Homo sapiens: one gene and its partners. The protein of the gene in region 2 purifies or fractionates together with the protein of the main gene of each other region. This does not show direct contact. Each region holds a gene or a part of one and is shown on either strand. Other genes may lie near its edges.

Region 1 (4,324 bases), on a different chromosome or scaffold from region 2:
CCGCAGGTGGAGGGAAGGCAGAGGGCGGCAGGGGCTTCACCCTGGCCCCTGATGAGGGAGGGGCAGAAAGAATGGGGCGGCACCTGCCACAGGCTGTGTGTGGGACTTTGCTGGCAGCAGCAGGCGCGGTGCCACGGCTTTGGGGACCAGCTGGTCACCAGGAGTCCTGCCATCCCCTGGTGCCTGAGAGAAGCTGGGCCACCCGCCTGGGAGCAGCTCCTGGCAGCACCCCTGTGTCTGGCTGGGGTCAGAACTGGTGACTTTCCAGATTCAAGCCAGCCTCCCTAGGAGGTCAAAAGCACCAGGCATGTAGAGGGGCTTCTGACCCAGCTGGTGGCAGCCTGCTCCCAGGGCACCTGCTCCTGGGTCTAACTTTTGTGGCATGGGGCCGCCCAGCAAGGGGCAGGGTGTGTGGGGTGGGCGCTGCCAGCCACGTGGGACTGTGGTATCCTCATGGAGCTCAGTCACGGTGAGTTCGCAAACAGCACCCCCCGGCCTGTGTCTCCAGAGGCCAGGTCAGCACCAGAGGCCAAGATGGGGAATAAACTGGGCTTTAATGGGGAGGGAGGAGAGGATGAGTTCCCTCCAGGACGGGCTTGTTCTCGGCTGGTGGAGCAGAGGGGAACCAGGGGCCTGGCTGGGCACTGGCGGACTGTGTGCACGAAGGCCGACCAGCCTGGCACAGGGACCAGCTGGAGAGTCACTCGTGACTTTAGAACACGGCATTCAACCGCATGTCCTTGGAGCACCGTATTCTGGTCAACCGGCTGGTCAACGAGCTCCAGGCTTTCTGTAGTTTGTGGTCAACGAGCTCCAGGCTCTCTGCAGTTTCTGGTCAATGAGCTCCAGGCTTTCTGTAGTTTGTAGTATTGTCAGCAGAAAGTTACACTCATTATTTCGAAAGCATGATATACTGATGTATACTATCGGATAAAGCAAATGATTATGTAAGCTTTTTAGGAATCAAAAGTTTCAGGATTAAAGGAGAGAGATGCAAATGTAAAATTAGTGGAATTAAGTAAAAATTTTGCTATGTTAAATTTGACCTTTTCCCAACAGAAGGCATTTCCTTAGCTACCAGCAAGGCCTAGACACAAACGTCTGGACTGTAGTCTCTGACTGCCGTTCCCTTGGGTCCAGGCCTCTGGCGGGAGGGCGGGACCCCTTCCTCTGACTGTTCCCGGGGTCAGGCCATGGGGATGCACAAGGCCACACCGTGAGGCAGGAGTTCGGGTGGGGCAGGGCCGTGGACTGGGGCACCCACCAGTCCTGGAAAACAGGGCTGGGACGCTGCTCTGTGGCCTCAGACAAGCTTGGTGGGCGACATGCTCAAGTGAGCAGGGGCCCCAGGCCACGTCCAACTGTCCGCGAGGCATGTGAGCCTGAGATGGGGCTGGTCTCCTGTCAGAGGCACGTGAGCCTGAGATGGGGCTGGCCTCCTGCCCGGCACACTCGTTTCTGGCCACTCTTTCAGACGTGCATTCCGGGGGCAGAATGTTCTGGGTAAGTTCAGGCCAGACACTGCTGGGCGATGACTGTTACTTCCCCCAGGCTGTGGGGAGGAGGCAGCCTATTCTTCTGAAAATTGTCCAGAAACTTCTGGATTCTGCATGTGGCCCCTGTGCATCTGAATTGGCCCCGCTAAGTAAATGCAACGTGGGTGCACCCAACATTCACAACACACCTTCCTGAGGTTTCTGCATCGGCCACGCCTGTGGGCTCCGGAGCTGGGTCTGGGGAAAAGCTGGTGAGCCACAGACATGAAATGGGGGCCATGGGGCAGGTGGGGGTCTGGGTGGAGACGGTGATGGGAGAGAGGGTTCACCGGCTGAGGGGCTGGTGTGGAGATGACCTGGAAAGTCCCTGCGCTGGGGGGTGAGGCAGGGTCACGGCAGAGCAGCTCCGGGGCCATCCGTCCACGCACTTTCTGTGACACATGCTGATGGACACACAGTAGTGTGCAGGGTGGCAGGTGTCCCCACAGTGGGAGCTGCTCTCCTCCAAGAGCAGCACCAGGAAATGCACGGAACCCATGGGACAGGGCTGGTTCTGGGAGGCTTGTGAACCCTCAGCTCCTCCCAGGAGGGCCCCCTGGGTGGCTGCCCAGACCTCCTATGTGGGCCGGGAGACACTGGCTCTGGGTGAGGCACAGGCACGTGCAGACGGCGTGGGACAGGGGCTTGTTTCCTCCAGTGGAGTCTTTGTTTTTTGTGGGAAACCTCTGGGACCTGCCCTGGAGAGCCTGGCAACTGCAGGGCACTGTGGGGCGGGAGGTGCCTCAGCACGTGGGGCCAGGGGCTGGCTGCACCGCGCTGCACAGATGAGGTCGGCGGTGACCAGGCAGAGGTGACACCAGGGACGGTCTCCTTGAGCTGCAACAACTGGCCCGAGGCTGGGGACCCCACATGGTGATTTCATCCCAAACAGTTCTTGATTCTACGTGACCTGATTTGGGGGGTTCAGGTTTAAGGGAGGCCAGGTCTTGGACGGGCCCCCGTGGTTCTCGGTGTGAAGGGGACGTCTGCTGCTCCCCACCAGACCCGCAGTCCCAGTCTGCCGGGTCATGAGGGGTGGAAGTGCCTGATGAGCGCCTTCTTGTCAATCTTGCCCATCTGGTTCCGCGGGATCTCCTCCACCAGCACCAGCTCCGAGGGCACCGCGTACGGGGCCAGGACATTTCTGCAGAGACAAGCACAGCCTGAGGCGCACTGCCCTGACAGTGCCCAGCAGGAGGAACTCAGGCGCCCAGCAGTACGGACAGGTGCCCCTGGGACCCTGCAGCCTTGCCAGGCGCCTCGGCCATCCTGAGGCCAGGCAGGTGCACCGGGCCACCGCAGCTGTCTCTGCCCTAGCAGCCCAGGGGTGGTGACTGCAGGAGGTGCCCGGCATGGTGTTATCACTGGTACCACAGAAGCCATGGTGCGTGCAGGCCTTGGGCGAGGGCACACCTGAGGATAGGCCTGCACAGAGTGGCCTGCAGGGCAGAGGGGCCCCCACACCGGGCCAGGCCTTCCAAGTCCCCGCACTGGAGCTGGAAGGCCCCATTTCACTCTGTGGCCCGTTCCCCTTCCAGAGGAGGCGTGCGGAAGAGGCTGGGGAGTGGGTGGGCAGGTGGGGCAGGGGCAGTCTGCCCTGTATGGGGTATTTGAGATGGGAGTAAATGCCGCACAGTCCTGCAGACACAAGCCTATGTGGCAAGAGGCCTCACAGAGCCCTGCACGGCAGGGACGGCCCCTAAGGTTTGAAACCTCCACTCAGGGTCCCCCTTCCTCATGGGCGAGAACTCGGTGGGTGGTGCCAGGGCGGTGGGCGGTGCTGACACGGGTGGGTGGGGCCAGGGCACTGCCAATGCAGGCGGGCGGGGCCGAGGGCAGTGGGCAGGGACGAGGCGCTGGGATCTGAAACTGAGACTGCAGTGGTGCTCGGTGCTCCTCCATTCACCATTAAAGAAGGGAGGAAAGAAATGAAATTAACCCCCCAAAGGGAGGATGGTTGTGCCGCCCACCAGTGATGCCCTGAAGGCAGCGGCCGTGGCCCAGGCGCAGGAGGGGCTGGTCCAGGGCGTCCAGGCTGCACTGAGCCATGACAGAAACGAACCTTCATGGCGATTGTTCTGGTTACTGTTCCGCGGAAAAGTCCAGAAACCAAGTGTCGTGGTTTCTTGACGCTTTTTGTGGAGAAAGTGTCGCCTGCCGTCCAGACGCGGCCAGAGACCCAGCACAGTCCCCCTGCCCACCTGCCCCTGCCCGTAGGCCTCTCGCGACAGAGGTGGGAGTCGGCCCAGCCCAGTCTCTCGCTCTCCAGGGGCAACTGGCTTCGACCTCGGTGTCGCTGTCAACCTCGACCTCCACATTTCCAAATCGCATTTTTCTTTTTTTCTCTTTTCTTTCTAGGACAGGATCTCACTGTTGCCTGGGCCAGAGTGCAGTGGTGCAGTCATGGCTCACTGAAGCCTCGACTTCCTGGGCTCAAAGGATCCTCCCGAAGTGCTACAGGTATGCGTCACCTTACCTGGTTCCAATGTTCCTATCAAATTTATTTTGGCACGTATATATTTTATAGTTGTATAAAACTATGACAGGCATTTAAATGGAGATGTAATTTACACCCAGCTGTCCTATGTACAGTGTGGTGAGGGATGTGTAGATTTTTTTTTCTTTTGAGACAGAGGCTTGCCCTGTCGCCCAGGCTGGATTGCAGTGGTGCAGTCTCGGCTTGCCGCAACCTCCGCCTCCCGGGTTCAAGCGATTCTCCTGCCTCAGCCTCCTAACTAGCTGGGACTACAGGCGCATACCACCATGCCTGGCTAATTTTTGTATTTTTA
Region 2 (3,942 bases):
CTGAGCACTCTTGGAGGTCTCTCTAAACTCCTGCTCTGGCAGCAGGGCCCCTCGCCCATGCCCAACACCAGGGGCGGGAGGTGCTCACAGCCTCACCTCCTGGGCCCGGCCCTGGGCCGTCCACCCTGGCAGAACCACAGGCCACTTCCCCAGGCCCTCCCACTGGCCTTTAACACGCCTCCTTCAGTTATGTGCCTGTGGATAAAAGAATCAGGCCTGTCTGCTTCCTTTGAAGTTGCTGGCTGGAGTCACACATGTCTTTTCCACAGAGCATTCTTCTCTCCCGGCCTCCTGGGCTTCTGAGCTCTTCCAGGAGGCGCACATGGTCCTGGGAATAGGCCCCGACAAGCTGCCTGGAGGTGGGCCCAGTGATGCTCCTGATTCGGCTACACAGCCCCAAGTTCAAAGCCTGCTCCAGATGAGCCTGCCCTCCCCAGCCCTGGGTTTCCTCATCTCTCGCACCCAGGCTGATGGCTGCCTTCCTTCTGGCTCTGGATCTGCCAGGACACGGTGCGTGGAGGCTGCTCTACCCCACAGCAGGTCACGACCCATGACAGTACTGATTTTTCACCCCATCAAACCTGTGATGTCAGGTCGGATCACCCTGTGGTGGACTGAATGGTGGCCCCTAAAAAGAGACGTCCACCAGAGGCCGGGCACGGTGGCTTACGCCTGTAATCCCAGCACTTTGGGAGGCCGAGGAAGGCGGATCACGAGGTCAGGAGATCGAGACCATCCTGGCTAACACAGTGAAACCCCATCTCCACTAAAAATACAAAAAAATTAGACGAGCGTGGTGGCAGGCACCTGTAGCCCCAGTTACTTGGGAACCTAAGGCAGGAGAATGGCGTGAACCCGGGAGGCATAGCTTGCAGTAAGCCAAGATCACACCACTGCACTCCAGCCTGGGTGACAGAGCAAGACTCCGTCTCAAAAAAAAAAAAAAAAAAGATATGTCCACCAGAGCCTGCAAATGTCACCTTATTTGGAAAAAAGGACTTTGCAGATGTAAGTTAAGCATCTTGAGATGCAGAGATCATCTTAGATTATCCCAGTAGGACCTGAATCCAACGGCAGGTAGAGTCCAGGCGCGAGGGCTCATGCCTATAATCCCAGCAGTTTGGGAGGCGGATATGGGCGGATCACTTGAGGTCAGGAGTTCGAGACCAGCCTGGCCAATGTAGTGAAACGGTATCTCTACTAAAAATACAAAAAAATTTAGCGGGGCATGGTGGCGGGTGCCTGTAATCCCAGCTTCTTGGGAGGCTGAAGCGTGAGAATCGCTTGAACCTTGGAGGCGGAGGTTGTCCTAAGCTGAGATGGCGCCATTATACTCCAGCCTGGGCAACAGAGTGAGACTCCATCTCAAAAACAAAACAAAATAAACAAAGAGGCAGGTGGAGGGAGGTTAAATAGAAGAGGGCGGGGCCATTGACGGCGAGGCTGAGATGGGAGAGGTAGAGCCACCAGAGGCTGGGAGAGACAACGGATTCTCCCCAAATCCTCTGCCAGATTTCGCACTTCTGGGCTTCAGGACTGTGAGAGAATACATGTCTGTTGTTTTGAGCCACCTGGTTTCACAGAATTTGTTACAGCGGGCTCAGAAAACTATTATAAGCCCATTTTACAGACCAAAAAACTGAGGCCAGAAAGCAGATAAATCTGTGCAAGGTCAACCTAGGAGTCAATGGGAAGCCAGGGTCTGACCCTAGGCCTAGCCAAGGCAGGGGGTTCAAGGGAGGGGGCCTGGCAGGGGCAGCCTGAGGGTGCAGAGCTGACAGTGCTCACTTCCCAGGGACCACTGCCTGGGCTGACCCTTCCTTTTTTTTTTTTTTTTCTTTTTTTTTTTGTAGTGGAGTCTGTCTCTGTCACCCAGGCTGGAGTGCAATGGCACCATCTCGGCTCACGGCAACCTCTGCCTCCCAGGTTCAAGCGATTCTCCTGCCTCAGCCTCCCGAGCAGCTGGGATTACGGGCACCCACCACCATGCCCAGCTAATTTTTGTATTTTTAATAGAGACAGTGTTTCGCCATGTTAGTCAGGGTGGTCTTGACCTCCTGACCTCAGGTGATCCACCCACCTCCGCCTCCCAGAGTGCTGGGATTACAGGCATGAGCCACCGTGCCCGGCCTTGGCCCTTCCTTCTGACCACGGAACCCTCAAGCTCCAGGATGTCACTATGGGAGAGCTCCCCCGAGGCCAGGACAGAAAGGAGACACAGATGGCTCCAACCCTCCACCCCATGCCTAATGCTGTGTCTCGGGCGGGTACAGTGGTTAGAGCCAGGGTTTGGGGTTGAGGTTGCATCCCGGCCACTTTTTGCTGGAGCATCTGGGGCAGGGGTCGTGACTCCTCTGGATCTGAGTCTCTTCATTTGTGAATGAGGCTCCCCGATCCTTCCTCTGGGGGCTCCAGTGACCACAGAAAAAGACAAGGGGAGTAACTTGCCCTGCACAGGGGTCGACCACAGCATCTTTTGGAAACACCCTCCCTCCGGCACCCTCTGCCTATACCCCCAGCCCCATGTGCAGAGCGGGTAAAAGGAGCTCACAGGTAGGAAGGTAGGGAGGCAGCATGGCTGGGGGCAGTGGGATGGGTGGGCAAAGGGGTTAAAGGCAGTGTTTAGTTTTTATGGTTGTTGTTGTTGTTGAGACAGGGCCTTGCTCTGTCACCCAGGCTGGAGTGCAGTGGTGCGATCTCGGCTCACTGCAACCTTCACCTCCCAGGCTCAAGTGATCCTCCCACCTCAGCCTCCAAAGTAGCTGGGACTACAGGCATGTGTCACCATGTCTGGCTAATTTTTGTATTAGTAGAGATGAAGTTTCATTATATCACCCAGGCTGGTCTCAAACTCCTGGACTCAAGCAAACCGCCCGCCTCAGTCTCCCTAAGTGCTGGGATTACAGGCGTGAGCCACCATGCCTGGCCAAGGCAGGGGTCTTTATAGTTACCCCAGTCTGCGGTGAAGAGAGGGAAACCGAGGCAGGGCCCCTGAAGGTGCGTGCACCTGGGGGCTGGTGTCTGGGGCCACATCATGCTCCCACCTGTGGTGTGTATGTGTGTCAGGCCCCTGCCTTCCTACATCCGTCCCCCTGCCATTCCCTGCTGCCCCTCCAGGACTCCAGGAGCCTGGCTCACCCTTCAGCTTCTCCCCAAACATGGTCAGGAACACCGTGAAGTTGATGGGTCCGGGGGCCTCCTTCACCATGGCCTCCAGTTCCTCGTTCTTGACATTGATGCGGCCTGTGGGAGGTGAGAGGTGGGGGCAGGGAGGATAAGAGAGATCAGAGCTTGGGCCTCGGAGGATCCCACAAAGCCTCCCCACTCAGCTGCTCCACGTGCCCCCCACTCAGCCCTAAGGCCCTGACGCCTTTTTGGGGGACTCTTTAGGGGGCATTTGGGCCACAGTCAGCTTCCGGCTGCCCCCAGCCTCATGAGAAGGGAGCAAGTCACTCTCATCCCCATTTTACGGTGAAGAAACTGAGGCCCAAGAAGCTGCAGCTGAGGTGCACGGGGGCTGCAGGCTCAGGGTTCCTGTGCCCCAGGAGGGGATCAGTGGATGCCTGGATGCTGGGATTCCCTGTGGTTCCAGGGGACACTCAGATTCCCAGGGGATCAGGGCCTGGTTACGTCCGTTCTGCCACCTAAACCCTGCATAGGCGACTTCAGGCTCTTCCCTGGGGCCTTAGAGGGATCAGAAACCTCAACCTGGGAGTTGGGTCTTTCCCTCTGACTCAGCTTCTCCCCTGCTTTCCTGGCCCCTCCCCACACCCAGGGTCCCCTACACCAGGCCCAGGCCCAGGCCCAGGCCCATGCTGCTACTCCTGTCCCTGAAGTGTTTTCCCCTTCCCTGGCCGAATCCTTCTCCAACCCCCCAGGAAGGTCCCCCCCTGACTTTCCAGACAGTGGCTGCCTTTACCCTGTGCTCCCCAGCACAGGAGC
Region 3 (3,942 bases), on a different chromosome or scaffold from region 2:
ACTGCGAGGTAACTCTTTCCTGAGTCCTGCAATCCAGCCAGGCATGGTGGCTCACACCTATAATCCAAGCAATTTGAGAGACCAAGGCAAGAGGATCACTTGAGGCCAGGAGTTTAGGACTAGCCTGGGCAACATAGTGAGACACTGTCTCTACAAAAAAATTTGCTTTAAAAACCACACTTCTCATTATATTCTCTTTCTCCCTTCCCTAGGGTATAAAGACGCTGGCTGTGTGTCCCAACAACGATATGAAAGAGCTTGTTGGATGAAGTCTTCTTTAGAAGAAGGCATTTCTGTGTTGAAATCTATTGAGTTTTTGAGCTCTAAATGGAAAAAATTAATCCCAGAGGCTTCTATAAGTACTAGTAGAAGTCTGCCTGTCAGGTATGCATTTTTAATATAGACCTTTCTCACTTTTTATAGAAAAATAAGATCATAAGATCATTTCATAGAGACATTACCTATGTGTTCCTACCTACACATTTCAAATGAATGTAGCTTGTTTTTGGCTTCTTTTCAAAATCCGTTAGCTGTAACTCATCTTTTTTCTTTCTTTTTTTTTTTTTTTTTTTTTTGAGACAGTCTCGCTCTTTCACCCAGGCCAGACTGCAGTGGTGCGATCTCGGCTCACTGCAAGCTCCGCCTCCCGGGTTCGCGCCATTCTCCTGCCTCAGCCCCCCGAGTAGCTGGGACTACAGGCGCCTGCCACCGCGCCCGGCTAATTTTTTGTATTTTTTAGTAGAGATGGGGTTTCACTGTGTTAGCCAGGATGGTCTCGATCTCCTGATCTCGTGATCCGCCCGCCTCGGCCTCCCAAAGTGCTGGGATTACAGGCGTGAGCCACTGCACCCGGCCTAACTCATCTGTTTTCTAAGTATTAAAAAATATATGGCTGGATGCAGTGGCTCACACCTATAATCCCAGAATTTTGGGAGGCCAAGGCAGTCGGATCACTTGAGTTCAGGAGTTTGAGACCTGCCTGGCCAATGTGGCAAAATCCCATCTCTACTAAAAATACAAAAATTAGCCGGGCGTGGTAGTGCACACCTGTAATCCCAGCTACTTGGGAGGTTGAGGCAGGAGAATCACTTGAACCTAGGAGGCAGAGGTTGCAGTGAGCCAAGATCACGCCTCTGCACTCCAGCCTGGGTGAGAGTGAGACCCTGTCTCAAAGAAAAGAAAAAATCACATATATATATATATTCTAAATTATTATTTTTATTTTTTATATGATTTCTCTGTGGCTCCCATTGAGTTCTTTTGGCTTTCATAAGATTTAGAAGGCTCAAACCAAGAAAAGTTGTTATCTGCTTTCTTTTCTAGTCTTGGAGCAATGTGGAATGATCTGATCTTGTCCATGAGCTATAGCAAGGAAACTCCTTTGTTTTTAATTTTTTTGAGATGGAGTTTCACTCTCCTTGCTCAGGCTAGAGTGCAATGGTGCGATCTCGGCTCATCGCAACCTCCCAGCTTCTGGGTTCAAGTGATTCTCCTGCCTCAGCCTCCCAAGTAGTTGGGATTACAGGCGCCTGCCACCACACCTGGCTATTTTTTTTTTTTTTTTTTTTGAGATGGAGTCTCACTCTGTCAGGAGTGCAATGGCATGATCTCGGCTCACTGCAACCTCTGCCTCCCGGGTTCAAGCAATTCTCCTGCCTCAGCCTCCTGAGTAGCTAGGATTACAGGCATGCACCACCACACCCGGCTAATTTTTGTATTTTTAGTAGAGACAGGGTTTCACCATGTTGGCCAGGCTGTGCTCGAACTCTTGACCTTAAGTGATCCACCTGCCTTGGCCTCTCAAAGTGCTGGGATTACAGGGATGAGCCACCATGCCTGGCCCAAGTTTTTATTTTCATGAGGGTTTCCCAAAGCACTAGCACCAGCAATGAAACAGATTTTTAATAATAGTAACAGCAGGTTTTAAAGAATTTGCGTAATCATCTTTCATATCAGGGGATCTCATTCATAGAAATGACAGCCTTATTCACAAATAAGGATGGTGGATATCTTTGTCCATTCAGACTGCTATAACAAAACACCTTAGACTGGATAATTTATAAACAACAGTAATTTATTGCTGACAGTTTTGGAGACTGAAGTCCAAGATCAAGGCACCAGCAGATTAGGTGTCTGGTGAGGGCTTGCTGTTTGCTTCCAAGATGGTGCCTTCTTGCTGTGTTCTCACATAGCAAAAGGGCAAAAAGCTCCCCAACCCTCTTTTATTGGGGCACTAATCCCACTTATAAGCGCCAGAACCCTCATGCCCTAATCACCTCCTAAGGGCCCCACCTCTAAAAACTGTCATATTGAGCATTAGATTCCAACATAAGAATTTAAGTGGGGGATACTACCAACATTCAGACTATAGCAGTGGATATATTTGTTTACTAGCTAACTGGCTTACACTAGGCACCAGGAAATGGTTGTAGTGTAAGCAGTTTAAAATTGACTCATTTCTCCAGCTGTTTATTCATTTGTTTAAATTTAGGAGGGTTCACATTATTTCAAAAGTTGGACAAATAATTTATAACACAGGCCAGGCACAGTGGCTCATGCCTGTAATCCCATCGTTTTGGGAGGCTGAGGTGGGCAGATCACTTGAGGCCAGAAGTCAAGACCAGACATGGCAAAACCCTGTCTCTACTAAAAATACAAAAATTAGCCAGGCATGGTGGAGCACACCTGTAATCCCAGCTATTCAAGAGGCTGAGGGAGGAGAATCACTTGAACCTAGAAGGCAGAAGTTGCAGTGAGCCGAAATCACACCACTGCACTCCAGCCTGCGTGACACAGCAAGTCTCTGTATCAAAAAAAAAAAAAAAAAGAATTTATATAACACTATGCTTTCTTTTATAACAAATATCACACTAATTCGTGTAATAGGAACTTGCATTGAATGTGACTGATGTGTATTGATGAATATTGAGAGTGTGGGAAGTGATCGTTTTCAGCAGTCTCAGATGCTAACTGATGAATAAAAAGATGAACAAATGAACAATGAAAACTTATCAGCTATGTTTTTACCATAACAATCCCAGGAGTAGCCATTTTGTTTAGATGGATTTTTTTTAAAAAGGTCAGTTTAAAAAGGTAATTTGGCCAGATTCCTTTTTAATTCAGGCATATTTCCCTTCAGGAGGAATCAGTCTACATATTTGATTTGAGAATATTTGCAGTCTACCACTTAGCCTTTCTTTCTTTCTTTTTTTTTTTTTTTGAGACGGAGTCTCACTCTGTCACCTAGGCTGGAGTGCAATGGCACAATCTTGGCTCACTGCAACCTCCGCCTCCTGGGTTCAAGTGATTCTCCTGCCTCAGCCTTCTGAGTAGCTGGGCCTACAGGCGCTTGCCACCATGCCTGGCTAATTTTTGTTTGTATTTTTAGTAGAGACAGGGTTTCACCGTGTTAGCCAGGATGGTCTCAATCTCCTTACCTCAAGATCTGCCTGCCTTGGCCTCCCAAAGTGCTGGGATTACAGGCATGAGTCACTGTGCCTGGCCTTAGCCTTTTTTAGCGAACTCACTTGATCAATGCCCAGACATATAAAGCTAAAAAGATTTTAAAATCCGGTTAAAAATACACTTGCTGCATACATGCCAGACTATGTAGTAAGCGCTGACCAGTTGAACCTGACTCTGAACAGGCATTTAACAGAAGAGATACACAAATGCATGTACATGTGCACCTATGCGTAACACATACACACACACACACACACATTTTCTGTCAGGATTACAGAGAAATGTATTGATGTGTTAGGTAGCTCAGAAATTCCCTCCTGGCTTTGTTGAAGTATGCTAACTTATCCATTCTTTGCCAGAGCTCTGTACTCTGAGGCTTAGGCTTGATTCAAAGCAGTTCTTGAAGTTTGGAGTTGAGAATAGCTCAAAGCCTTGTGAACAGATTTTTTTAAAACTATCTCGAATTCTGGTGCTCAG
Region 4 (3,942 bases), on a different chromosome or scaffold from region 2:
CAAATTTATCTAATTTTTCCATATAAGGAAAATAATAATGATCATGACAGCAACTAACATATATGTTTTCCATGTACTTGGTGCTATGCCAAGAGTTTTACATGAGTTATTTACACATATTATCTTATTTAATCCTTAAAACAACCCCATAAAAGTTACACAAGAGATAAGGAAGACAGAGAGAAAGGAAAAACCTTTCCCAGACAGGGAGTGGCAGGGCCATGATCTCAACCTGGGTAAACTAATTCCCAAGCCTACAATCTTACTGTCTACCCAATGTTGCCATTAGGTCTTCTGCTCTTGGAGAAATGGAAGCACCATCTTCCAGCTAAAAAAAGAAGGGATGTGGTTTGGGAACTGGATGAGAGGTTTGCTTCTCCCTTGCTTTATGATTGAGAGCTACTGTACTTTTTAAATAATAAATGATTTGGGGGCCAGGCGAGGTGGCTCATGCCTGTAATCCTAGCACTTTGGGAGGCTGAGGTGGGTGGATCATGAGGTCAGGAGTTCGAGACCAGCCTGGCCAACATGGTGAAACCCCATCTCCACTAAAAATACAAAAATTAGTTGGGCATGGTGGCGGGTGCCTGTAATCCCAACTACTTGGGAGGCTGAGGCAGGAGAATCGCTTGAACCCGGGAGGTGGAGGTTGCCATGAGCAAAGATTGTGCCACTGTACTCCAGCCTGGGTGACCCAGTGAGACTCCGTCTCAATAAAATAAATGATTTGGAGAATACTGACAAATCTTGAAGTTATCACATTCAGACTATGAAACCTAGATTTGGGGCTGAGGCATATACACTCATTAAGCAAAGTTGGAAATAAACTTTTGTTAGCACAAACAATATGAAAACCTCAATGCACAACAGTGCATTGAGTTCATATGTGCTGTTGCGGATCTGTACTCCTCCTAATTAGCTATTTTCTTCTTACTTTATGGCTACTGTAGGTTTGTGGGTTGTTTTTTTTTTTTTTTTTTTTTGAGACAGTCTCACTCCGTAACCCAGGCTGGAGTGCAGTGGCACGATCTTGGCTCACTGCAACCTCGGCTTTCCAGGTTCAAGTGATTCTGCTGCCTCAGCCTCCCGAGTACCTGGGACTACAAGGCGTGTGCCACCACATCTGGCTAATCGTATTTTTAGTAGAGATGGGGTTCACTATGTTGGCCAGGCTGGTCTCAAACTCCTGATCTTGAGTGATCTGCCTGCCTTGGCTTCCCAAAGTGCTGGGATTATAGACATGAGCCACTGTGGCTGGCTTACTGTAGGTTTTGTTACTGACCATGTTTACCATGGTTCCTTTGGCTTCCTGGGAAGCTGCAGCTCAACAGCAATTTTCTCCCTACACTTAGAATAAAATCTAGGCCTCTTGCTTGTCTACCAGGATCTGCAAGGTCCTCTGCATTGCGGTTTCTGCCTTCTCTCTAATCTCAGAGCTTATTACTTTCCCTCTTGCTATTATAGCCCAACTGGCCGTGTTGCTTTCCTCAAACACATGCCAAGCTTATGCCTGCCTCAGGGCTCCTTTGGGCTCCTTTTTTTTTTGAGATGGAGCCTCGCACTGTTGCCCAGGCTGGAGTGCAGTGGCGCGATCTCGGCTCACTGCAAGCTCCGCCTCCCGGGTTCACGCCATTCTCCTGCCTCAGCCTCCTCAGTATCTGGGACTACAGGCGCCCGCCACCATGCCCGGTTAATTTTTTGTATTTTTAGTAGAGATGAGGTTTCACCGTTAGCCAGGATGGTCTTGATCTCCTGACCTCGTGATCTGCCCGCCTCGGCCTCCCAAAGTGTTGGGATTACAGGCTGAGCCCGGCCTGCATCGGGGCTTTTTAAATATTTCGTATTATTTGGGATGGTCTTCCCACCACCTCTCCCCATTTCTCAAATAACTCACTCCTCATCGAATCTGCCCCCTCAGAAAGGCTGTTCCTGACCACCCCATTCACAACCCTCTGACCTATCCCTTACCTAAATTCTATCTACCTTGCTTTATTGTCCCCATAGTACTAATCACTGCCTGGAATGACATTACCTGTTTGTTTATCTGTTTATTGTAAATTCTAAGAGGGCAGGGACTTTGTCTTTTTCACTGCTCTTTCTCCAAGAACATAGAAGGTGCTCCTGTTTGTCAAGTATTTGCTAAATGATCTACTTAGGATCTTATGGCATGTATTCGGTGTACTAATCTCACTCCTGACTTAACTTCCCTCCACTTCTCCTTTATCCTGATTTCCTCATCTGTTTAAGTTTATCCTGCCGTAGAAACTGTAGTGTTTTTCTTTTTTAGAAGAAACCGTAGTTTTGTAAGTTGTCTCAAATCTTTTTTTTTTTTTAATGAGGGTGAGTATACACATACACATGCATTTAAAAGATAGGTTTAAAGTAGGTAACTAACAAGCAGATAGATGTCTGCAGCACAGTATAATTCACCTATTACCTCCAACACTTACATGTCATCAGCAAAAAAACAGCTGGCTTGCTTTTGCACCTCTTCCATCTCATCCCGACTCCACTGGGAACTCCGTCTTAGCATGTGCTTCCGGCCTAGGACCAGCAGTCGCAGATTCCGTTTGGCTAGTTGAGAGACGACATTCAAGAGCTAAAAAACACAAAGCCAGAACCACAAAAGTTCAAGGGAAGACTCTCAAATTAGTGGAGTGATTTTTCCAGCAGGCCACCTCAATGGTGAAGCACTCTTTTCTGGTAGGGGGTAAGAAAACAATCCACAATAATTTCCCATCTTTGAAAGCCTGAGGAAAATGCTTCCCTATTACACATTAATGTCTAACATCTGCCTGCTGGTCAGGCTACATTGCAGGGGGGGGTTTCTTTATTTTTGTGTGTGGGACAGGATCTCATTCTGCTGTCCAGACTGGAGTGCACAGGTGCAATCATAGCTCACTGCAGCCTTGAATTCCTGGGCTCAAGCAATCCTCCCACTTCAGCCTCCTGAGTAGTTGGGACCACAGACGTGCACCACGTCTGGCTAATTTTTTTTTTTTTTTTTTGAGACAGAGTTTCACTCTTGTTGCCCAGGCTGGAGTACAATGGCGAGATCTCAGCTCACTGCAACCTCTCCCTCCTGGGTTCAAGTGATTCTCCTGCCTCAGCCTCCCAAGTAGCTGGGATTACAGGCATGCGCCACCACAGCCAACTAATTTTGTATTTTTAGTAGAGACGGGGTTTCACCATGTTGGTCAGGCTGGTCTCGAACTCCTGACCTCAGGTGACCCACCCGCTTCAGCCTCCCAAAGTGCTGGGATTACAGGCATGAGCCACCATGCCTGGCCTAATTTTTTTTTTTTTTTTTTTGGTAGAGATGGGATCTCACGATCCTGCCCAGGCTGGTCTTGAACTTCTGGCCTCAAGAAATTCTCCTGCCTTGGCGTCCCAAAGCACCTGGATTACAGGTGTGAGCCACTGCACCCAGCCTAGTTCAGCTGTTTTAAACTGTGCTCTCTAGGGCCCACTAGGATAGAGATAGAGAGGCTCAAGAGGGATGGGATTTTGTTTCCTATACATGTCAAACCTTGTTTCGACCCAAACGGCTCAACCTTTATATATTTATCATATTGGTATTCTACATAAGTTTTGATTTGAATAAAAGCTTCTACTTCTTTTTAAGTTTGTAAATGATTAGACTAGACAGTGACTTTTCTATGTTATGACTTTATTGCTAATACTGCCTCCTTTCATTGAAATCCCCTTTTCTACTAAAGATCTGTCGATTTCTACCCTGTAGCCTACTTTCCAGTCAGTTACTTTATCCCCATTCTCTCCACTTCCCACTGGCCTCCACTTCATTGTGTGCACATGAACTCCTCAAAGGTCTAGACTTGGGTTTTAGAAGTCTAGTACTTTGGTGAGCTTGCCTATACTCAATTTTTCATAAGGAAAAGTACATAAATTACTTTTATGTACCACCTATTAAACTAAGCTATA
Region 5 (4,124 bases), on a different chromosome or scaffold from region 2:
GGGGGGAGAAGTTGGGGAGATGGGAGCCCCGGGCTGAGGGAGTAGGAAGAGGGGGGAGAAGTTGGGGAGATGGGAGCCCCGGGCTGAGGGAGTAGGAAGAGGGGGGAGAAGTTGGGGAGATGGGAGCCCCGGGCTGAGGGAGTAGGAAGAGGGGGGAGAAGTTGGGGAGATGGGAGCCCCGGGCTGAGGGAGTAGGAAGAGGGGGGAGAAGTTGGGGAGATGGGAGCCCCGGGCTGAGGGAGTAGGAAGAGGGGGGAGAAGGTGGGGAGATGGGAGCCCCGGGCTGAGGGAGTAGGAAGAGGGGGGAGAAGTTGGGGAGATGGGAGCCCCGGGCTGAGGGAGTAGGAAGAGGGGGGAGAAGTTGGGGAGATGGGAGCCCCGGGCTGAGGGAGTAGGAAGAGGGGGGAGAAGTTGGGGAGATGGGAGCCCCGGGCTGAGGGAGTAGGAAGAGGGGGGAGAAGTTGGGGAGATGGGAGCCCCGGGCTGAGGGAGTAGGAAGAGGGGGGAGAACTTGGGGAGATGGGAGCCCCGGGCTGAGTGAGTAGGAAGAGGGGGGAGAACTTGGGGAGATGGGAGCCCCGGGCTGAGGGAGTAGGAAGAGGGGGGAGAAGTTGGGGAGATGGGAGCCCCGGGCTGAGGGAGTAGGAAGAGGGGGGAGAAGTTGGGGAGATGGGAGCCCCGGGCTGAGGGAGTAGGAAGAGGGGGGAGAAGTTGGGGAGATGGGAGCCCCGGGCTGAGGGAGTAGGAAGAGGGGGGAGAAGTTGGGGAGATGGGAGCCCCGGGCTGAGGGAGTAGGAAGAGGGGGGAGAAGGTGGGGAGATGGGAGCCCCGGGCTGAGGGAGTAGGAAGAGGGGGGAGAACTTGGGGAGATGGGAGCCCCGGGCTGAGGGAGTAGGAAGAGGGGGGAGAACTTGGGGAGATGGGAGCCCCGGGCTGAGGGAGTAGGAAGAGGGGGGAGAAGTTGGGGAGATGGGAGCCCCGGGCTGAGGGAGTAGGAAGAGGGGGGAGAAGTTGGGGAGATGGGAGCCCCGGGCTGAGGGAGTAGGAAGAGGGGGGAGAAGTTGGGGAGATGGGAGCCCCGGGCTGAGGGAGTAGGAAGAGGGGGGAGAAGTTGGGGAGATGGGAGCCCCGGGCTGAGGGAGTAGGAAGAGGGGGGAGAAGTTGGGGAGATGGGAGCCCCGGGCTGAGGGAGTAGGAAGAGGGGGGAGAACTTGGGGAGATGGGAGCCCCGGGCTGAGGGAGTAGGAAGAGGGGGGAGAACTTGGGGAGATGGGAGCCCCGGGCTGAGGGAGTAGGAAGAGGGGGGAGAACTTGGGGAGATGGGAGCCCCGGGCTGAGGGAGTAGGAAGAGGGGGGAGAAGTTGGGGAGATGGGAGCCCCGGGCTGAGGGAGTAGGAAGAGGGGGGAGAAGTTGGGGAGATGGGAGCCCCGGGCTGAGGGAGTAGGAAGAGGGGGGAGAAGTTGGGGAGATGGGAGCCCCGGGCTGAGGGAGTAGGAAGAGGGGGGAGAAGTTGGGGAGATGGGAGCCCCGGGCTGAGGGAGTAGGAAGAGGGGGGAGAAGTTGGGGAGATGGGAGCCCCGGGCTGAGGGAGTAGGAAGAGGGGGGAGAAGTTGGGGAGATGGGAGCCCCGGGCTGAGGGAGTAGGAAGAGGGGGGAGAAGTTGGGGAGATGGGAGCCCCGGGCTGAGGGAGTAGGAAGAGGGGGGAGAAGTTGGGGAGATGGGAGCCCCGGGCTGAGGGAGTAGGAAGAGGGGGGAGAAGTTGGGGAGATGGGAGCCCCGGGCTGAGGGAGTAGGAAGAGGGGGGAGAAGTTGGGGAGATGGGAGCCCCGGGCTGAGGGAGTAGGAAGAGGGGGGAGAAGTTGGGGAGATGGGAGCCCCGGGCTGAGGGAGTAGGAAGAGGGGGGAGAAGTTGGGGAGATGGGAGCCCCGGGCTGAGGGAGTAGGAAGAGGGGGGAGAACTTGGGGAGAGAAGCAGGGAGAAGCCAAGGTAGCAGCGGCCCCAGAGGAGGGGTCGGCACGTCCAGGGCGAGTGGCATGAGGGTGAGGCTCAGCCGGGGGTCTCGGGGTTGCTGGGGAGGGGATCTTGGGAGGGGCTGTTGGGGGAGGAGTGGGGTCCTGGGGGCTGCCCTGCCCAGCCTGACCCATGTGCCCTTGTCCCTCCAGGAGATGGTAACCTGCACCTCAATGTGACGGCGGAGGCCTTCAGCCCCTCGCTCCTGGCTGCCCTGGAGCCCCACGTGTACGAGTGGACGGCCGGGCAGCAGGGCAGCGTCAGCGCGGAGCACGGAGTGGGCTTCAGGAAGAGGGACGTCCTGGGCTACAGCAAGCCACCGGGGGCCCTGCAGCTCATGCAGCAGCTCAAGGCCCTGCTGGACCCCAAGGGCATCCTCAACCCCTACAAGACGCTGCCCAGCCAGGCCTGACGGCCACTCCTGCTGCTGCCAAGGCCCACTGGGGGTCGGCGGGTGGCTCTCGGGCGGGGGTGTTGCGGTGGCTCTGAGGGATGAGCCGGCAGTGGGCAGGGGACCAGGCACCTGGTTGAAGGGACTGGGAGCCCGCACTGGGGAACTGCCGGACGCAGGCCCTCGGGCAGGAGCATCTGGCAGAGTGGGGGGCGTGGCAGGCACCCTCCTTTGCAGGGCGAGGTGGGGCCTCTGCAGCCATCCTGGACAGGCCGGGGTGGCGGCAGCTTTGCCCACGTGGAAGCGGGGTGGGTCTCACTTGCGTGGTGGCCCCTGGCCCCATCTTGCCTGCTGCGGCCTGGGGAGCAGGCGCTGGGTGGTGGTTCTGCCTGCTTGCTGCTCGTTCCCCGGGCATGCGTGGGCAGCGGGGGGCATGCGTGGGCAGCAGGGGGCGTGGGCAGCGGGGGCACGGGCAGGACCACGTGGGCCGTGATCGTGGGTTGCCGAGAGGACCTGAGCGCTGCGGCTCTGCTGAATGGAGCCGGGTCCCTCAGGCCGTGGACGCCCTCGGGAGGGGGGTGACTGTGGCTTGTGTCTGGACAGGAATGTGTCATTTCCCACATCTTCTAGAGGGCTGCCAGCTGGGAAGACAGTTATCAGGGCAAGCTGTGCTCTGAGTTTCGGGTTCTGCTCCTACAAAGAACGTGCGGTGCTGCGGGCGAGGGCCCCGGCACGGACAAGGGCCACTGCAGAGTGTGTTTCTGCTCGTCAGCTGCCCTGGGCAGCGGATGGGCTGGGCGATGCAGCTGGATGCACATCTCATTCTGTCATGAATGTCCAGTAAAAATCTGAATTGGTTGCAACCTTCTCTTTGCTTCTGTTACTGGAAAATCATCTTTCAGAGCCCATTGTGAAGGGCCTGTGCATCCCATTCCCACAGCCCCTGGACCACTGGGGCCATAGTGTGGCCGGGCCTGACACTACTGTGACTGTCACTGTGCCTCCTGTCCCCATGCACTGTCTGGTGGCAGCTGAGCTCCCACCGGCTGCACAGGGCAGGCCTGGACATGGAACGGGCAACTCATAACCCTTGGTGGCCCTGGAGGCCCTCAGCAGCTGGGCCTGACCGAGGTGTATCCACGGGCCCCTCCTGTCCCTGTGGGTGTCGAGGACCTCGGATCCTGCTCAGAGGGGGAAACATACCTCTGACCCGCTGCCCTGCAGAGCCCGCCTGCCTAGCCAGGGCCTCTGTGTGGACAGGCCACGTCCTCCTGGTGGAGGTCCTCGGGGGATGGGTGGGGGCCTTGGTCCAGCATGATTTTTTTTTTTTGAGACAGGATCTCACTCTGTCACCCAGGCTGGAGTGCAGGGGTATAGTCACAGCTCAGTGCAGCCTCCACCTCCTGGGCTCAAGTGATCCTCCCACCTCAGCCTCCTGAGTAGCTGGGAGTACAGGTGTGAGCCATCATGCCCAGATAATTTTTTTTTTTTTTTTTGAGACAGAGTCTTGTTCTGTCACCCAGGCTGGAGTGCAGTGGTGCGATCTTGGCTCACTGCAAGTTCCGCCTCCCGGGTTCACGCCATTCTCCTTCCTCAGCCTCCCGAGTAACTGGGACTACAGGTGTCCACCACCGTGCCCGGCTAATTTTTTGTATTTTTAGTAGAGATGGGGTTTCACCTTCTTAGCCAGGATGGTCTTGATCTCCTGACCTCATGATCT
Region 6 (3,154 bases), on a different chromosome or scaffold from region 2:
GAGTTCCAGATAAAAACAGACATGGTCTGTTTCCTGATTCACCAGTTGCTTGACACTGGTATGTCACTTATTAATTGTACCTGCACTTACTCATTCTACCTTCATTGCCAAGCCAGTCCTCTGTGTTCTGAGTCTATTTGCCTAAACATTCAGGAAAAAACAGTACAGATAATTACATGTATTTTGGAAACCACACTTGGTTTGTTGGTTGCCTGTAATTGACTATTTAAAGTGCATTTTCTAAGCCTACTTTAGATAGTGGTCTTAAGAAATGGTCATCATTCTTAAAAGAACTATAAGTGTAACCTGTCTGAAGACTGCTTCAAACTCTGTCTTAAACAATTTTGCTTTTAGTTAATTATTTAATTAAACCAATTAAAGATCCATGGAAAGAGGGAAAAGCTCAACAGGAGAGTGGTTATACTAAGGAAATGCCCATACCCTCCATTTAACAATGCCATGTAGAAGTGTTGTTGTTACTAGGTCAGAGATTTCCATGTGCTCAAATATTTGCCAAACAGGTGAAAAGCCAGAATAATTAAAACAAATTATTTATTCCAAGTTCTACCAGTTTAAAGTTTTTCAGAATTACAGAAGCGAACAATGAAATCAGAAACAAGCTCTCACAGCTGTAGCATTTATAACAAAGTCATTATCTACATGACCTTGATTTAAGAGGTGTAGAGTGTTTCTTTTATTCAGAATCCATGAGGAAAGTTTCGAAGTCCAGATCCAAGTCGGAAACGAGGGCACTTACGAAGTCATCAACAGAAGGACACTTCTGAAGCATACCTGCAAACAAAGGAAAGGTCAGAACTGCGTTCACCAGGAGGCAACAGGAAGCACAAAGACACAAAATCAAATCCACACACTAGAGGAACACTCTGGCTTTCTGAATTAAGACTCTGGCTGTATAACCTGAATGCAAGAACATTTTATAAAGTCATGGGCAGTGTGTGGGCCTTGGAGCTATTTATAATTTTAATGTATTTTTACTATCAAATCCATCCTTAGCTTAGAGATTTAGGCCTAAATATATTTCCTAAGGGCTATTATTTTTGCATATATGACTATACCCTTAGAGACTGATATTAGAAGACTGATTTTTTTTTAGTTATCTTTGACTGGGATGATTCACAATTTAACAAGTTTAATTACATATCAAGTTTTGTTATCAAGTTCTATACACTTTACAATCAATTAGATGTTAATTCTTTTATAGAAATCTTATATCAGAATCAAGTTATTGGCTCTCCTCCAGATTTCCCTGTCCCAGAGAACTCCTAGCTTTGCAACTTAGTAACTGTGTAACGCAGAAGTCACTTAAAATCTCTGGCATCCAAATTTCCTACAAGGTTGCTATAAGGATCAAACAAGAAGATGTAGTAGAAGCAATGAAGCACCATGCCTAGCATATATTAAGAATTCAATAAAAAGCTGAATTCATGTCCTTTCTTCACTCTAAAGAAGCCAAAAACAAAGATTGATGCAATTAACCTTATTGCTTTAACCTACATTCTTGGCAGGAAATGCTAACTGAAGGGTTGAACAGGCTCTATATACTGATATTTACTTTGGGAGATGAATTCTGTAAAACCATTTTCAAAATCAAGGCATTAAAAGATTGCAGGAATCCTCTATTGTTCTCTGAACCTGTATTGCAATTCAGTGAACATGAAGGAAGCATCTGTTGTGTGTAAAGGATCAGGCCAGGTCATGGGCATACAGGTGGGCAGGCTCAGTCACAACATGAAGAGTGAGAGTAGTCGGCTGGGCAGAACTGCATATCCATACGGCAGAAAACTAGCCTTGACTCCTACTGCATACCATACATAAAAACTAATTTGAGATGGTCACAGACCTAAGTGTAAACACTAAAATTATTATCTTAAAAAAACCGCATGAAGTATCTTTGTGACCCTGAAGTAGGTATAGTTTCTTAGGACACAGAAAGCAATGCATAAAAGGAAAAAATGTTAGATTTCATCAAAATTTAAAATGTCTCTTGAAAAGAAACCATTAAGCCAATGAGTAGACAAATGATAGTTGGAAAAAATACTCACAAAACATATCTCACGTAAGACTGGTATCCAGAAAATATAAAGAACTCCTTTGACCCATTGTAAAAATATGTTTTTTTAAATTACAAATTGACAAAAGATTTTACCTTCACAAGGTCAGGTTTTTCACAGAAGATATCTGAATAAGTAACACAACTAATAGGCACTGAGAAGACATTCAACATCATTAGTCACTAGGGAAATGAAAACCAAACCCACAATGAGATACTATTACACATCCACCAGAATAGCTAATTTTTTTTTTTTTTTTTTTTTTTTTTAAAGACAAGGTCTTGCTCTGTTGTCCAGGCCTGGACAACACAGCATGTGCAGTGGTGTGAACATGGCTCACTGCAGCCTCGACTTCCCAGGCTGAAGTGATCCTCCCGTCTCAGCTTGAGAGTAGCTGGAACCACAGGTGTGTGCCACCATGCCCAGCTAGTTTTTAAACTTCTTGTAGAGATGGGGTCTTGTCATGTTGCCCAGGCTGGTCTTGAACTTCTGGGCTCAAGCGATCCTCCTGCCTTGGCCTCTCAAAGTGCTGGGATTACAGGCGTGAGCCACTGTGCTACACCAAATGTTGACAAGGCTGTGTGCAACCTGAATTGTCATACATTTGTGGTGAAAGGATAAAATGATACAATCACTTTGAAAAAAGGTCTTAACCAGTGTCTTACGAAACTAAACATAGACCTACACTAGGACCCAGCAATTTCACTCCCAGGTATTTATCCAAGAGAAATGAAAGCATATGTCAACAAAGAAACAACTTGTACAACCCCAAGCTTGAAACAACCCAAGTTTCTATCAATAGGACATGAATACACACACTACAATATATTCATATGATGGAATATTACTCAGCAACAAAAAGGAACAAACTATTCATACATGCAACAACACAAACGGATCTCAAAAACATTATGCTGAGTGAGAGAAGCCTTATGTGAAGCAGTACATACTGTTTGATTCCATTTATATGAAGTTCAAAAAGTTAGTCAAACCAATCTATGGTGAAAAAAATCAGAACTGTGGTTGCTTTCGGGAGTGGATATTAGAATCAACTGAGAAGGGGCAGGAGGGCCTCTGGTGTG
Region 7 (3,942 bases), on a different chromosome or scaffold from region 2:
ACCTGAGGTCAGGAGTTCGAGACCAGCCTGGCCAACATGGCAAAACCCTGTCTCTACTAAAATAAATACAAAAAATTAGCCAGTGTGGTGGCAGCGCCTGTAGTCCCAGCTACTGGGGAGGCTGAGGCAGGAGAATCCCTTGAACCCAGGAAGGGGAGGTTGCAGTGAACTGAGATTGAGCCACTGCACTCCAGCCTGTGTGATACAGTGAGACTCCGTCTTGAAGAGAAAAAAAAAGGTGGGGGGGCTGGTTTGGAATCATAAACATAAATATTGAAAGTGCTGGTGACCTTTAATACTACAATTGTGTGGTCTGCAGTCGGGGAGCATAGAGATGGGACCTGGTATTTAATAGGTTGTGGTTGCAATCAGCATGGCCTGAGGGCCCAGGAAGATCACACAGCTGACACCCTACCTGCTTTCCTTCCAGTTACTCTGACCTTCCATGTCTGTACCCTCCTCTCCAGGCTGAGTATGCCCATCGTGGTTTCTCCGAGGTGAAAACTCCCACACTGTTTTCTACGAAGCTCTGGGAACAGTCAGGGCACTGGGAGCATTATCAGGAAGACATGTTTGCCGTGCAGCCCCCAGGCTCTGACAGGCCTCCCAGCTCCCAGAGTGACGATTCTACCAGGCATATCACAGATACACTCGCCCTCAAGCCTATGAACTGCCCTGCACACTGGTAAGCTGGGAGCTAGGGTTACAATCAGGTTGCTAAATATTAAATAATAGAAAGCACCTTGGGGCCGGGCACGGTGGCTCACGCCTGTAATCCCAACACTTTGGGAGGCCGAGGCGGGCGGATCACCTGAGGTCGGGAGTTTGAGACCAGCCTGACCAACATGGAGAAACCCTGTCTCTACTAAAAATACAAAAAATTAGCCGGGCACGGTGGCGGGCGCCTGTAGTCCCAGCTACTCAGGAGGCTGAGGCAGGCTAATGGCGTGAACCCAGGAGGTGGAGCTTGCAGTGAGCCGAGATCGCGCCACTGCACTCCAGCCTGGGTGACACAGCGAGACTCCATCTCAAAAAAAAAAAAAAAAAGAAAGCACCTTGGAAAGAGTATTGGGACACCGATTTGAGCCTACAGTCTTCCCCCTAGCTAACCATGTAAATTTGGGAAACTCATTTTACCTCTTTAGGTCTCAGTCTCCTTAAAGTTGCTATCTAAGGCTCCTCCTTCAGCTCAGTGACCATCACAGAACAGGGAAATGGTAAACGATGTCTGTTATTGTGTTACTGAGAAATCCACTTTTGAACCTCAGGGCTCAGACTGTGATGAGTGGGATTGACAGGACTCAGTGGGAGGATGTGCTGAGGCTGGAGAGGGTTATAGCAGATGGTGCAGAGAAAGTAGGCAAGCAGATTGGGTGGAGGAGCAGTCTTCGGGGGCTAGTCCTCCCTATGGCCCTGACCCCTCTGCACCCCAACCTCAGCCTGATGTTCGCCCACCGGCCCAGATCCTGGCGGGAACTGCCCCTGCGACTAGCTGACTTTGGGGCTCTACACCGGGCCGAAGCCTCTGGTGGTCTGGGGGGACTGACCCGACTGCGGTGCTTCCAGCAGGATGACGCTCACATCTTCTGTACAACAGATCAGGTGGCCTTTCCCTGGCTCCACCAAAGCTTTTCTAAACCACCTTTCTTTCTCCCTATGAACCTGCAAACCCCTGATCTTTATTTGCCCCCTGTATGTACTATAATTCAGCTACATTCTACCCCCAGCTTGCTTCCGCTTCCTCTCTGTTTTTGCCCTTTGTTTTCCTCAAACTGCCAGCATCCCTGATCTCTAGCGGGCTCACAGCTCACTGACCCTTATTTCCTGCCCCTAGCTGGAAGCAGAGATCCAAAGCTGTCTTGATTTCCTCCGTTCCGTCTATGCCGTTCTTGGCTTCTCCTTCCGCCTGGCACTGTCCACCCGGCCATCTGGCTTCCTGGGGGACCCTTGCCTTTGGGACCAGGCCGAACAGGTGAGTAGGAGGTAGAGAAATAGAGGCAGATAAACCACTCTCTGGTGGGAAGGAGTGGAGAATACAGTAATCAAGGTTCTCAGAGGCATCTGGTGAGTGGGTCATTTGTTGGGGACTGACCGGATGTGTTGCTTTTGAAGTCTAAGATGATGTATTCCACTCTTGTCTCATTCCTTCAAAGGTCCTTAAACAGGCCCTGAAGGAATTTGGAGAACCCTGGGACCTCAACTCTGGAGATGGTGCCTTCTATGGACCTAAGGTAAGCTTGGGACCCTGGTTAGTGTTGTATTTATTTATTTTTTGCTTTGTTTTAGTAAATATTTAATAGATACAAAGAATTTTTTTTTTTGAGACAGTCTCACTCTGTCACCCAGGCTAAAATGCAGTGGTGTGATCTCAGCTCACTGCAACCTCCAGCTCCCTGGTTCAAGCAATTCCCCTGCCTCAGCCTCCCGAGTAGCTGGGATTACAGGTGTACGCCACCACACCCGGCTAATTTTTTTGTATTTTTAATAGAGATGGGGTTTCGCCATGTTGGCCAGACTGGTCTCGAACTCCTGACCTCAGGCAATCCACCCCACTTGGCCTCCCAAAGTGCTGGGATTACAGGCGTGAGCCACCGCACCCGGCCACAAAGAAATATTTTTAAACTTACGTAGGATATAAAGAAAAACAATATACTTTCTGCCCTCTTGGCATCTGCAATCTAGTGAGGGCTGCTGAAGGTAAATAGGCCATATCAGTGCTGCGAGATCTGTGCTGTGTAGGTACCAAGAGAGCACGTTAGCTGGGGTTAGCATTACTCGGGGAGGTTACAAAAGGTGTCCTGCAGGAATCACTTTCCAATCTGAAAGGTGAGTGTTGGCCAAGTAAAGATGTGTTTCAGGAGGGAACAGTGTAGGCAGAGGCTGGGGATAAGGATGAAAACACATGGCAGACCAATCTGGGCAACACAGGGAGACCCTGTGTCTACCAAAAAAAAAAAAAAAAATTAGCCGGGTGCAGTAGCTTGTGCCTGTGGTCCCAGCTACCCAGCAGGCTGAGATGGGAGGATCACCTGGTCCCAGGAGGTAGAGGCTGCAGTGAGCCGAGATTGCGCCCCACTGCACTCCAGCCTGGGTGATAGAGTGAGACCCTGTCTCAAAAAAAAAGAAGCCAAGGGGAAAAAAGGACTGAAAAGTGTCCACTGGATTTAGTAAAAAGGCTGCTGGATTTCAAAGGACCATTTTCAGTAAAGTAGGGCCTGAGGGTGGAGTTAGAAGATGAATAAATGAGGCCTGTGTGGTGGCTCACGCCTGTAATCCCAGCACTTTGGGAGGCCGACGTGGGTGGATCACTTGAGGTCAGGAGTTCGAGACCAGCCTGGCCAACGTGGCGAAACCCCATCTCTACTAAAAATATAAAAATTGGCCGGGTGAGGTGTTAGGACACACCTGTAGTCCCAACTACTCAGTAGCCTGAGGCAGGAGAATCGCTGAACCTGGGAAGTTGCAGTGAGCCAAGATCACACCACTGCACCCTAGCCTGGGCAACAGAGCAAGACTCCGTCCCAAAAAGTAAAAATAAAACAGGCTGGGGGCGGTGGCTCACGCCTATAATCCCAGCACTTTGGGAGGCTGAGGCAGGTGGATCACCTGAGGTCAGGGGTTTGAGACCCTGTCTCTACTAAAAATACAAAAATTAGCCCAGCGTGGTGACAGGCACCTGTAAACCCAGGAGGCGGAGGTTGCAGTGAGCCGAGGTCGCACCACTGCACTCCAGCCTGGGCGACAGAGTGAGGCTCCATCTCAGAAAAATAATAATAAAATGAAAAATAAAATAAATGCTATGATGAGAGGAAGTCTATTTGGAGGGAGAAGTTGTTGTAAAGGGAAGTTCCTGGAGAGGTTTAAGGTAGGATTGAGAAGCCTTCATAGAAGGGATCACCATTGCCATTGTATCCAGGGTGGAAGGAAAGGCTGAAGGTAGAT

Evidence for each region.
Region 1: the proteins of MYL10 (region 2) and ACSF3 purify together in Homo sapiens (affinity purification with mass spectrometry; one large-scale study listed by BioGRID and IntAct). This does not show direct contact.
Region 3: the proteins of MYL10 (region 2) and MTO1 purify together in Homo sapiens (affinity purification with mass spectrometry; one large-scale study listed by BioGRID and IntAct). This does not show direct contact.
Region 4: the proteins of MYL10 (region 2) and PRORP purify together in Homo sapiens (affinity purification with mass spectrometry; one large-scale study listed by BioGRID and IntAct). This does not show direct contact.
Region 5: the proteins of MYL10 (region 2) and D2HGDH purify together in Homo sapiens (affinity purification with mass spectrometry; one large-scale study listed by BioGRID and IntAct). This does not show direct contact.
Region 6: the proteins of MYL10 (region 2) and MIPEP purify together in Homo sapiens (affinity purification with mass spectrometry; one large-scale study listed by BioGRID and IntAct). This does not show direct contact.
Region 7: the proteins of MYL10 (region 2) and TARS2 purify together in Homo sapiens (affinity purification with mass spectrometry; one large-scale study listed by BioGRID and IntAct). This does not show direct contact.

The regions. Positions count from the first base shown.
Region 1 is NC_000016.10:89,152,445-89,156,768, reverse strand, and holds the end of ACSF3 (malonate--CoA ligase ACSF3, mitochondrial isoform 1 precursor), read right to left. Parts: intron 2,680-4,324; coding exon 2,562-2,679; 3' UTR 536-2,561; downstream 1-535. UniProt on the Homo sapiens protein: Catalyzes the initial reaction in intramitochondrial fatty acid synthesis, by activating malonate and methylmalonate, but not acetate, into their respective CoA thioester. May have some preference toward very-long-chain substrates.
Region 2 is NC_000007.14:101,618,958-101,622,899, forward strand, and holds part of MYL10 (myosin regulatory light chain 10), read right to left. Parts: intron 3,244-3,942; coding exon 3,139-3,243; intron 1-3,138.
Region 3 is NC_000006.12:73,482,237-73,486,178, forward strand, and holds part of MTO1 (5-taurinomethyluridine-[tRNA] synthase subunit MTO1, mitochondrial), read left to right. Parts: coding exon 1-8; intron 9-212; coding exon 213-384; intron 385-3,942. UniProt on the Homo sapiens protein: Component of the GTPBP3-MTO1 complex that catalyzes the 5-taurinomethyluridine (taum(5)U) modification at the 34th wobble position (U34) of mitochondrial tRNAs (mt-tRNAs), which plays a role in mt-tRNA decoding and mitochondrial translation.
Region 4 is NC_000014.9:35,265,384-35,269,325, reverse strand, and holds part of PRORP (mitochondrial ribonuclease P catalytic subunit isoform 1 precursor), read right to left. Parts: intron 2,600-3,942; coding exon 2,451-2,599; intron 1-2,450.
Region 5 is NC_000002.12:241,765,545-241,769,668, forward strand, and holds the end of D2HGDH (D-2-hydroxyglutarate dehydrogenase, mitochondrial isoform 1 precursor), read left to right. Parts: intron 1-2,165; coding exon 2,166-2,425; 3' UTR 2,426-3,267; downstream 3,268-4,124.
Region 6 is NC_000013.11:23,729,654-23,732,807, forward strand, and holds the end of MIPEP (mitochondrial intermediate peptidase), read right to left. Parts: intron 793-3,154; coding exon 695-792; 3' UTR 536-694; downstream 1-535. UniProt on the Homo sapiens protein: Cleaves proteins, imported into the mitochondrion, to their mature size.
Region 7 is NC_000001.11:150,497,063-150,501,004, forward strand, and holds part of TARS2 (threonine--tRNA ligase, mitochondrial), read left to right. Parts: intron 1-467; coding exon 468-685; intron 686-1,439; coding exon 1,440-1,602; intron 1,603-1,834; coding exon 1,835-1,972; intron 1,973-2,153; coding exon 2,154-2,231; intron 2,232-3,942. UniProt on the Homo sapiens protein: Catalyzes the attachment of threonine to tRNA(Thr) in a two-step reaction: threonine is first activated by ATP to form Thr-AMP and then transferred to the acceptor end of tRNA(Thr). Also edits incorrectly charged tRNA(Thr) via its editing domain.